Linked DNA regions of Homo sapiens. The protein of the gene in region 2 purifies or fractionates together with the protein of the main gene of each other region. This does not show direct contact. Each region holds a gene or a part of one and is shown on either strand. Other genes may lie near its edges. The genes, in order: KCTD12 and ARHGEF39.

What was found.
Region 1: the proteins of ARHGEF39 (region 2) and KCTD12 purify together in Homo sapiens (co-immunoprecipitation; 2 studies listed by BioGRID and IntAct, with this or other methods). This does not show direct contact.

The regions. Positions count from the first base shown.
Region 1 is NC_000013.11:76,879,675-76,883,170, forward strand, and holds the end of KCTD12 (BTB/POZ domain-containing protein KCTD12), read right to left. Parts: 3' UTR 501-3,496; downstream 1-500. UniProt on the Homo sapiens protein: Auxiliary subunit of GABA-B receptors that determine the pharmacology and kinetics of the receptor response. Increases agonist potency and markedly alter the G-protein signaling of the receptors by accelerating onset and promoting desensitization.
Region 2 is NC_000009.12:35,662,196-35,669,711, forward strand, and holds the start of ARHGEF39 (rho guanine nucleotide exchange factor 39), read right to left. Parts: upstream 3,001-7,516; 5' UTR 2,975-3,000; coding exon 2,837-2,974; intron 2,656-2,836; coding exon 2,561-2,655; intron 2,298-2,560; coding exon 2,177-2,297; intron 1,932-2,176; coding exon 1,813-1,931; intron 1,198-1,812; coding exon 1,127-1,197; intron 880-1,126; coding exon 751-879; intron 547-750; coding exon 317-546; intron 73-316; coding exon 1-72. UniProt on the Homo sapiens protein: Promotes cell proliferation.

The DNA.
Region 1 (3,496 bases), on a different chromosome or scaffold from region 2:
ATAACCCAGACGACTTGTTTCTGTGATTTCTCAATCTTAGCAGCACTGTGCCTTCTTTAGAGAGGAGGAACATCAACCACTAGAGATGAGGCAGTAAAGTGCCCCCACATCAAAAAATGCAGCTCCTCTTTCCCAACATTTTTTAGAACCTTCTCATGAACTGTACTTTTAAGTAAAGCACATCTCGAAGCTTCTATTTCCCTGTCCCTATACACAGCAAGTGGCATATGCTGCAGAGAAGTCAAAGAAAATGTTTGTGAAAAACATTTCTTCCATATTAAGTACCAGACCGCCTGGGCATTCTTGACAATAAACTCTGGGGAAAGAAGCTATTTGTGCTTGGTCCTGCTGGCCGGTTCCTTGGTGAAGAGTTCTGATGGCATAATGCTCAGCAGTAGTCCCACAATAATTTGGGAAGTGTTGCCAGTATTTAGAGAACCCCGTAAATGAAATTAGACCAGTGTTCAAGCCAATCCATGCCAAGGAGCCAAGAGGAATAATTAAAGGAGTGAATGTTTTATTCTTTAGTGTTTAATTGAATACATAACAAGTCACATAATCAATGATTCATTACTTCACACACAGGAAGGAAAACAGTAGCTAGTATTTCTGTTATACAACTGGTTGTGAACAGGAAGAACAAAAATCTTTATAGCATTAGATGGTTGAAGAAATTCTCAAAGTTTGGGCATGTCTGAAAAGACTTTGACTGCATCTTTTTTCAATATAAAGGGATTTTTTTCTTACATTTCTGTGTCATTAGAAAAATCTGATAATCTTATAAGATTTTTTCTGCTCTTCTTACATTTAGAGAAAATGGTTTAATGATATGTACTATTTAAAAAATCAGAATCCCAGATAACTCTGTGTGAATCTTACATTGTCTAGCAGATAAGGTTTTCAGATGCCTGGAAAAATTTAAACAACATATAATTTACATCTTCAAAATTAACATCCAGATGGATGTTTTAATCCTTTGTCACTAAATGGTTACTAACGCTGTTTGAGTGGTCATAAATGAATTGTCATTTGTATTCAATAGTAATAGCAAAATTTACCTGCCTATAAAGTCGCAAAAACAGTTGTATAATAGTTTACATTACAATTAATGTACCCATACCTCAAAACACATTTAGAATTTAAAAAAACTGGCTTGGAAAAAAATCACAAAAAATTTAAGTGACAACAAATCTTGATTAACTAGTCCATCTTCCTACCACACATGATTATACTCTAATGTAGATATTCTGGTTGAATTTCTTCCAACCAAGTTTGAAGGGCCCCAGTAGAAAATCAAGTGTTAATACTTTCAGATTTTTATTGTCCAAAACTGTTGACAAAGAAAAGCTAACTTCAACATAACTTGTTTCTGGCTATACAAAGACCTATTTCAGGTGCTACAGATACTGAAAATAGGAGTATTTTACTTATTTCTCAAGAGACAGACTTATGCCATCTAAGAAAATGAATTCAGTTTTTAAATGATTTATAGTAAGGAAAAACAGGAAAACAATTCCAAACGAAGGATTGACTCTGATAGGCTTACAACAAAAATATTCAGTTTACTATTTTAAAAACTAAATTGAGTAAAGTATTTGTGATTTAGACTATAAAATAAATTCTCAAGGAATTCAACCCCTCCAGTCAATACTTTTTCTTAATGTCTGCATTGTAATTTAGCATTTTGCATGTGGGAGTACACAAATGAATTGAATATTGGATCAGAATTTACCCTAACTTGAAGAGTAAAAAGTTATCAAAGTTTCACCTTACATGGCTTTATTGAAATAACATTCCATCGAAAATTCCAATAAAAATTGGAATATATTATGAGCACTGCCAATTGCTCATTTTGTCTGATATTAACAGATTATGCATTTCCTCAGAGAAGCAGTAGGTCCCATATATACAGACATATATATGGCTCTGGTTTGAAAGAGAAGACAATTTTGTCTAGTATTATGATTTATCACTGTGCTATCAATCAAAAACCAGTAGAATACATAACAACATTGAAAGGGAAAAATTTTTAAATCTCACATCTTCAAGGAATATTTTCTACAGCATATCATTTGAAAAAGTAGAATGAATACTGTTCATGGTCCACATGTATTAAAAAACATGTCAATTACTTGGTGCAAACACACAGAACCTGGTACCTGTTTTTTTTTTTTTTTTAACCACCATTGTCTACACCTTTTTAAAAATTAAGTTTGTTACTAAAAGTCCAATGTCATTCACTTGTATTTATGATCATCAAATGGTAATTAGGGCAACATATGTAAATGCATGCCTCTGAATCAGATTCATGCAGTGTTAATTATCTGAATAATTTATGACATTCTCCCAGGTTATTTGAATGGTATCTTTGGAGGGCTTACTCAAATGAACCCACAATACCTCCACTATTACAGCTTATAGGAAATTACAATCCACTTTACAGGCCTCAAAGGTTCATTCTGTGGCCCAAAGCCCATGGAGGGGAAGGGATCTAAAGGTGCTCATGTCAAGTTATTTTACTTGTTTTTTACTGTCTACCCAATGTAAAATGAATTTTCTTCACAGCCTTTACTTTAGGCTAAAAATAGACAGTTTTCTTGTATTGACTTTAACTTTAGAGGGGACAGTCGTCCCTGGAAAAAGAAGTAGATTTACTGTCCCTAACCATTAAATTCCCAGTCTTTCAAATAATGTGCGGGGCGGGGGGTGCTGGGTGTGACAGGGTGCAGTGAATAAGATGCCTATGTACAAGACAGTGGAATAGTTCACCTCAAAGGTTTACAAGATAACATTTGTAAGACTTGAGTGACAGAGGCAAAATTTTAGCAGTTTCTCAAGACTCTTGGAGTTGAGCAGATTTGAGAAGGGAAATCAGAATCGCCGAGCCTTGCCATCTGTCAGTGGTTTTGGTCTGTCCCAAGATGTTCTCAATCATGTGCTTCCTGTTGAACAATCTAACAAAATACCATACGGGGTAGAGAAATCTCTGCAACACTGACTTTTGGTCAGTGAATCAGAGTCCTAAATTATTTCAGGCTTCAAACAGATGAATTCTGATGCATTACTTAGTCTGAGACCAAACTCAACATACAAGCAAGCACAACTTCCTAGATTTCTGCTTCCATTTCGCCTAAAATTACAGGCTTTGTATATGAAGTCAATTTTACTTCTCAAAAAATGTTAGTCTAATAAAAGACCTGAAATCTATTTCCCAACTAAAAAAAAATTAGTGGATTAAAAATACAGGTACCTTGACTTTAAGTAGACAGTTAATCAACATATGATTAGTAATACAACTAATACTCAAGAAAAAAAGTATAATACAGCAAACTCAGTTTTACAATTATGTATTTTTTCCTAACCCAATTCCTCGATAAGGATGTAAGAAACTCATCAAAACATGTTGCTTTAGTATATAAACCAGCTGATGCAAATTACTGGGGTAATATAGGAAATTTTATAGCATTAGTAAATGAATTAAAAAACTAAATGATTC
Region 2 (7,516 bases):
ACTGTGGTACCAGCGTGACAGCTCCTCCTGGTCTGTGGACATAAGCAGTAGCTTCTCATGAGGGAAGGACAGCTAGAGAGAGACCACCTCTTAGCGCATGGCTCAGAAAGGTCCAGGCTAAAGCTGAAGCCCTTGCTGTTTCCATGGAGCTAATTCAGGGATGAGACAATGACTAGGTATGAAGCCCGAGCCCCAGCTATCCTCTCTCAATGTAGATGGCTCTGTTCCTATGAAAAGGGACCCAGACCAGGGAGATAAACCAGCCCATAAGCATCTGAGACATATTTTGGGTCTAGGGTTCCCACCTATTACTTACACTGAGCAACCCACCACAAGGGCCTCCTGAGTGGCCAAAGACCCTGCTGAGATGACACTGGGCCATGGGGTAGAGGGCCTTGCAGGCAAAGGTGCCACTCCGCAGCAGGTGCAGTGGAGGCCGAGGCTTGGCCATGAGGAGCACATCAGTGAAGAGGAAGAACATGCGGGGCCGAGGCTCCCCATGGGGAGGCACCACTAACAGCCAGCCCTGGCGTAGGAACCAGCGCCCTGGGGGATGGGAGCGCTGTTATTCTGGTGCAGCTTCAAGATACATGGGAATAAGAGGAAAGGGAGGCTGAGAAAATAGGGGTTATGTGCTGGGTCAGTACAGGAAGAAGGGTGAGTAAGAAAAGAGCAGCTGGTCGGCATTTGGAGTTAGATAAAAATAAAAGATGGGGCAGTTGAGGATTGAAGGGGAAGTAGGCAAGCTACCTGAGGTCAGCCCCTTTGCCTGGCGTCCACTGAGCAGAGCCTGGACACGCCGAAGGTGCTGGTCATTCTTCTGTTTCTGACCAATAGTATGGACTCTCTGGGCAGTCTCACTTATCAGTCGGGCAGCCCCTGGAATAACATCTCCCACCTTACTCCCCATACAACTTTGACTTTGGGTGCCATGGTTGTGAAAGAGGTTATTCTGGAAGGGACCAGGGTCAGGGTCTGACTTCTTGAAGAAAAGGCAGAGCAGTAGGGACACTGTATACATGTCAGTGGAAGATAGGGTCATACCAGACATTGTTGGAGGTCAGAATCAGAAAGGAATACAGGAGAGGAAGCCTCCAGCCTGCGTTGCCGAGGAGCAAGAACCTACGTGTGAGCTGTTGATGGTCAGGGCTGTTGGGACCTGTGTTTTCAGCCAAAGCTACGACGAGATTCTCATACCTGGAATTCAACAGTGGGAAGTCTGAGGGGAAGCAGAGCCAGGCAGAATTCCCCCTGCCTGATGTGCAGATCACCCTCTACCCATACTTCAATTGAAGGCCAGGAAAGATCTGCTTCTGGCTACTGTATCCCCTTCTTTCATGTAGGACTCAGAACCAGGCTCACACCACACAGCCCTCTTCCATCCCACACTGAAGAGTCACTGGCAGACTAGCCATACTTCAGGAGGCCAGATTGGAAGATGAAAGTTTATCAACCCAAGGAGGATGCTACAGACAGCCTGACTATAGCCCTTAACTCAGGCTTAACCCAGAGACAGAAATTCTAACCCAGGCCAGCCCCGCATCTGAAACTTTTCCAGAAACCGTGCCTCAGGCCCTAGTACAGGCCCCCTCACTTCAATTTAAAGTTCCACAGTTCCAGCTGAGGGCCTCAGGCTGCAGACCCTGGGTACTCCAATGGGTTCACATTTACTCTTGCAAAAGGTTTTTAGAAGCAATTTGGCTCAGGGTCGAGGCAAGAGTTTGGGATCGACCCCAAGGCATCCCACAAAGCTGAGGGCAGCAGTCATACAAACTAAAAGAGAGAGGCGGCTGGAATCAAGAGTTCACTCACTGCTGGAGCCGTTGCAGAGGCAGAGGGAGCAGGTCCTGGAGCTGAAGGCCCCCAAACTCAGGGCGGCCTTCCTGAAGCCGTACAAACCTCCGGAAACCTTTATTTTTCTTTAGCTGCTCCTGGAGTGAGGGAGAAAGGATTGGAAGCAGGGAGAGAAGCCACTCCTTATATTGCATTCATCTGTATCCACATTCCCAGCCTTCAGTAAGCTGTGCTCCTGAGAGAAACTCTCGTTTCTCTACAAGGAACTTACCACAGAGCTGAGCACCCAGAGGGCTCTATAAATGCAGGAAATGTATGAAGTTTGGGTCTCCAGATGAAGGGGAAAGGTAAGGGGCAAGATTTGAGGTCATCTCCAGGTTACCTGCAGGGTGGTCTGGGACCTCTCTGAGTTGGCAGCAAATTGGTTATAGAGCTCCAAGTGGCGGCAGAAGCCCTCCAGCCCTTGGCCCCAGCATCCTCCTTCCAGGTAGGGAAGCAGCTCCCTGTGTGGGCAAGGACAGCAAAAGGGCAGCTCTAGAACCACTCAAGCACCACCTCATTTAGTTTTCATGAGAATAGCACTAATAGTAGTGCTATTACCCCATTGTACAGATGGAGAACAAGGGCATGCTAAGGCCCTGGGCCAAGGCCACAGGTGAGCTAACTGGCGGACTCCAAATAGAACCTAAGTCTGACTCCAAGCTCTGTGCACGGCCACAGGCCAGGACTCTCCCTCCTTTCCTCTCCCTGTGCCCCTTCCACTCACTGGCTGGCGCCGTAGATGAGCTCCCAGGAGCCAAACAGGGCCTGGCGCTCAGGTGGTCGCAGGGTCCCCTTGGCTTTCAGGATCCCCAAAAAGTACTGCGGAAGGAGAGAACATTGGTTCTTAGCCTAGAGGAAGAGAAGGCTAACGCCAAGCGCCCCCAGAAACCGCAGAAGTCTGCCCAGGCTCCCTACATGCTCCGGGTTACCGACCTCGCAGAGACCCTCCCACACCCTGGGGTCCCTGTCCTATAATGGGAGCGTGTGCCAGGTCCCCCACCGTGGCCACCAGCCCCAGCTGTTCTTGGTAGCGCCGCTCGGTCTCTAGCAGCTCCCGGGCGGTGCAGGCGCGTTTCCGCTCCCAGCGGGCACGCTGCTCTTGCACCGGGCACCGCGAACCGGGGCAGGAGAGCTCCATGCCCTGGCTGAGGGATCGACACTTCCGGCTGCAGTCCGCGGCAGATTCAAATCCCAACCGCTCGCGGGCGGGAGCCGCGGAGGCGGGGCCGGGGAGGGCAGCGCGCAGGAAGGAGCATGCGCGGCGAGCGGCCGGACCGCGCAGGGTCTCTTCTGTCCAGCCCCACCGCCAGAGCGGCGCTTTAGGTGCGCGGCGCCGGCCAAGGCAGGGCAGGGCAGGGCAAGGTTGGGGGCAGGTGTGGAGCCCTCCTCTGAGTGGCACTATGTTGGAGCAGCAGCCTGAACTTTGAGTCAGGAGACGGGCTGCAGATGCTGGCAGGAACTTAATGTCCTATCTGGAGAATTGGGACGGGGGGCGGTCATTACAGTACACATTCTGTCCTGGGCCCATGCCAAATGCCAGGGGGTCAGTTGTTCCCAGAATTGGCTAGGAAAAGGTATAGCCATTTGAAGGAATGATATGAAAGTATTAAAAATGGTGTTGTAAAGAAGCTATCGATATGGGAAAACGCACATAGTAAGTATATTGCTGAGAGGAAAAAAAGCAGGCTACAAAGGTGTATAATATAATCCCCTTTGTATAAAACATATATAAAATGTTGGAAGGCAAAACAATCAAAAGTTAACTCTGTTGCCAGGCACGGGAGCTCACACCTGTAATTCCAGCACTTTGGGAGGCAGAGGCAGGAGGATCACCTGAGCCCAGGAGTTCGAGACTCCATCTCTCCAAAAAAAAAATAAATAAATAAAAAATAAAAATAAAAAGTTAACTGTGGTTTTTATCTCCGGGTAATGGAATTGAAGATAATGTGTTTAACAAATGTGTATTAAGTACCTAATCTGTATCTGTGCCAGGCACTGGATCACTGAAGCTAAAGGGATGAATGGGACAAACAGGGTGATTTTAAAAATTCTCTTATACTTCTGCCTTTCCCAAGTTTTCTACATTAAGCATGCATTACTTTGTAGTTAGAAAAAAAAAGTTATTAAAAAAAACAAAATGTCAGAAACTTTAGGCTCCCTCCCTACTGTTTTGGACTCCTAGGAATCTGGGCCGCAAGCCAAGAACCAGAGGATTGTCAGGGTTCTGAGGTCTCTACCACCTCCCCACCAGCTCTGACATTCTAAGAATTCTAAGAAAGGAATAATGCTGGGCTTAGACCAGGGAGGAATAACTTGAAGGGCTTGGATGAAGGAAGGGGAGAGTTTGGATCAGACTGTACCTTGGGCTTATGTCCCAAGGAAACTGGTGGTGATACCAGATAGGTAAAGGACTGGTTACACTGTCTCAAGTGAATGTGGGACAGTCCACACACTAAGAGCTCAAACATGGAAGAGGACAGATAATCCCATGGTAATTGGTGTCACTGTGAGCCCAGGTGATGAGAGTAGACCACAACACCTGGGGTGCAGTTGGTGATGGGTGTGTTTGTGAATGCTGCCAGTGTGTGTTAGTGCTTTGGGTGGGTGGAAGAGGGGTGGGGAATAGAGCCTCCTGTGAGCATCGGTTGGGGAATCATTCAACTCTAGAAGAGGAAGAGGGCAAAGCCGAGAAGACACACTGAAAACAGTTGGTGACAACTAATTCCCTGGGGACCGAGTCTCCCACAGAGCAAGTCAGGCACACCATACTCTACCTGGAACAGCTGCTAAACTCCGCTCCCACAGCCAAAGATAGGAGGGGCCAACAGGAGGAGGTTCAGAGGATAGTCAATAACCCCTTTATTCTTTAATTATCCTCAAATTTTGCTTTCAATCCGATGGATGCTGGAGAAGCACTAGGGATGCTTTGAACAACAATCATCAGTCATTCAACAAAATTAGGCTGGGCATGGTGGCTCACGCCTGTAATCCCAGCACTTTGGGAGGCTGAGGCAGGCGGATCACCTGAGGTCGGGAGTTACAGTTACAATGGCTGTGTGCTTCTTTATGTGTTGTCAGAGACCAGCCTGACCAATGTGGTGAAACCCCGTCTCTACTAAAAATACAAAATTAGCCGGGCATGGTGGCACGTGCCTGTAATCCCAGCTACTTGGGAGGCTGAGGCAGGAGAATCGCTTGAACCCAGGAGGCAGAGGTTGCAGTGAGCCGAGATCATGCCATCGCACTCCAGCCTGGGCAATAAGAGCGGAACTCTGTCTCAAAAAAAAAAAAAAATTAAATGCCAATCATGTGCCAGGTCCTGTGCTAGGCATGAAGATGAAATGGTGGGCAAGAGACATATGACCCCTGCCCACAGGGAGCTTACACTCCAGCATGGCAGATACAGTAAGGAGTCACCATAAAATGAGGAAACATTACAAGAGACATGTAGTCTTCTACACAAGCATGCAGTGAAGGGACTGATCCTAGTGTAGGAGTCAGGGAAGGCTTCTTCTCAAAGAAGTGATATGTGAACTGATGACCTGAAGGATGAATAAAACCTGGCTAGGCAGAGCTGGGCGCTGGCAGCAAGGGAAGTGGAAAAAAGAGTCAAACAGCATGGACAAAGGCTTGGACACACACATATGCAAGCATACGATGAATTTAAGGAACTGCTAGAAGTTCTGTAAGATGAGAGCATAGACTGCAAGGGAGAGAGTGATGACAAAGGAGACTGGAGAGGTAGACAGAGGCCAAACTTAGAAGGAATTTATATCAGTAAAATTGTGATATAAGTAATAATAAATTCAAAGTGGCTAAACATTAAGATAATTTATTGGCTCATGCAACTGAAAAGTCCAGAAGCAGGTGGGCCCTAGTGTTGGCCTAATCCAGCAGCTCAATCATGTTACCAAGGACCTCTTTCCACCACTCCACTGTGCCTTCCATGGTTTTACCTTCATCTTAAGGCTGGCTTCCATTGTGGGTACAAGATGGCTGCCCACAGTTACAATGGCTGTGTGCTTCTTTATGTGTTGTCCGCAGAGTTGGTTCCCTTAGCCATCAAATACTTCAGACAGAGAGCTTCACTGATTGGACCTCCCTAGGTCACAAGCCCACCATGGAAACCAGGGCAATGGCGGCCCTCTGAAGGCCACGTCAGGTACTGTGAACCTTATCCTAAGGGCAATGGGAAACCATTGAAAGGCCTTAAACAGGGAGTGAGATCATCAGATGTGCCATTTTAGAAACATCACTCTGGTTGGCTGGACTCAGCAAGACCCATCAGGAGGCAGTTGCAGTCATCCAGGTAAGAGGTGACGAAAGTATGAGCCAAGATGAAAAATGTAGATGAAAAATTTAGAAGGTAGAATCCATAGGGCATGGTTATTGAATGCTAGGGTGAAGGAAAAGATGAAAGTAGAGATGGTACCAGGTTTCTGGCTTCTAGGTGGAGGGTGGTGCTATTCACTGAAGGAGGATGAAAAGGAGATTTGCGGGGAAGACAAATTCAACCTGGGGCCTGTTAAACTTGAAATACTTGTGGGACATCCAAGTGGAGATGTCTTGGGTCTTGTCTATTAGGCAGATGGTTATGGGTCTGGCATGGGGAGAGAGTCCAGCCTGGGAATACTTGGGTGTCATCAATTTATAGGAGCCATGGGAGTGGATGACACGGCCTTGCAAAGATAAGTAGCAGGATAAGGGCAAAAGCATGAGAGTCTTCAATACGAACTCATCCCTTCTCATCCTGTGCGTCCACGTCAGTTCCCCTGCACTGATGGTGGACTAAATGGTGGCCCCATATAAAGACATGTCCATGTCCTAATCCCCAAGACCTGTATATGTGACCTTGTTGGGAAAAAGGGTCTTTGCAGACATAATTAGTTAAGGATCTTGAGATGAGATCATTCTGGATTATGTTGGTAGGCCCTAAATCCAATGACAAGTGTCTCAGTGAGAGACACCCAGTGGAGACACAGGGGCAAGAGAAGGCCATGTGAAGTTGGAGTAATGCAGCTACAAGTCAAGGAATGCCTGGAGCCGCCAGAAGCTAGAAGAGGCAAGGAAGGATTCTTCCCCAGAGCCTTCAGAGAGAGTCCAGTCCTGTCAAAACCTTGATTTCAGACTCTGGCCTCCAGAACTGTGAAAAAATCCATTTCTGTTGTTTTAAGCTACCCACTTGGTGGTAATTTGTTACAGCAGCCCTTGGAAATGAATATAGATGGGGAGGTAGCCAGAACTACAAGTCAGCCTCAAGGTTCTACAAGGAATTTGATCAGTCTTTGCCCCCAAGCTATGGCTTGGGAGAGGGAGCATTTTCCCTTCTACCCCACCAGTGAATAGTTTCCTCCTCTGCCATGCTGGGATAGGCAGAGACATGTTTTAGTAACATGACCCCTCAGTGTTTGAAAACACAAACCCTCATGAGCAAACACTTGGCCTATAATAACCACAGAGAGGTCCTGATCCAGGTGTGGGGTGCCCTGGTCAGTCAGTCCTGAGTATACTCTGTCCCAACCCGGGGAGACTCAGGAAACAATAACTCAAACCTGTTTGAGGGTTTGGCAGACTCCCAGCATGATCCAGGGTCAGAGTCCACATTCTCCACTCAGACCAGAGACGAGAGAGACAGAGAAACAGAGCCATAGGGAATCGCATTTGAAAAATGAGTGAGCTG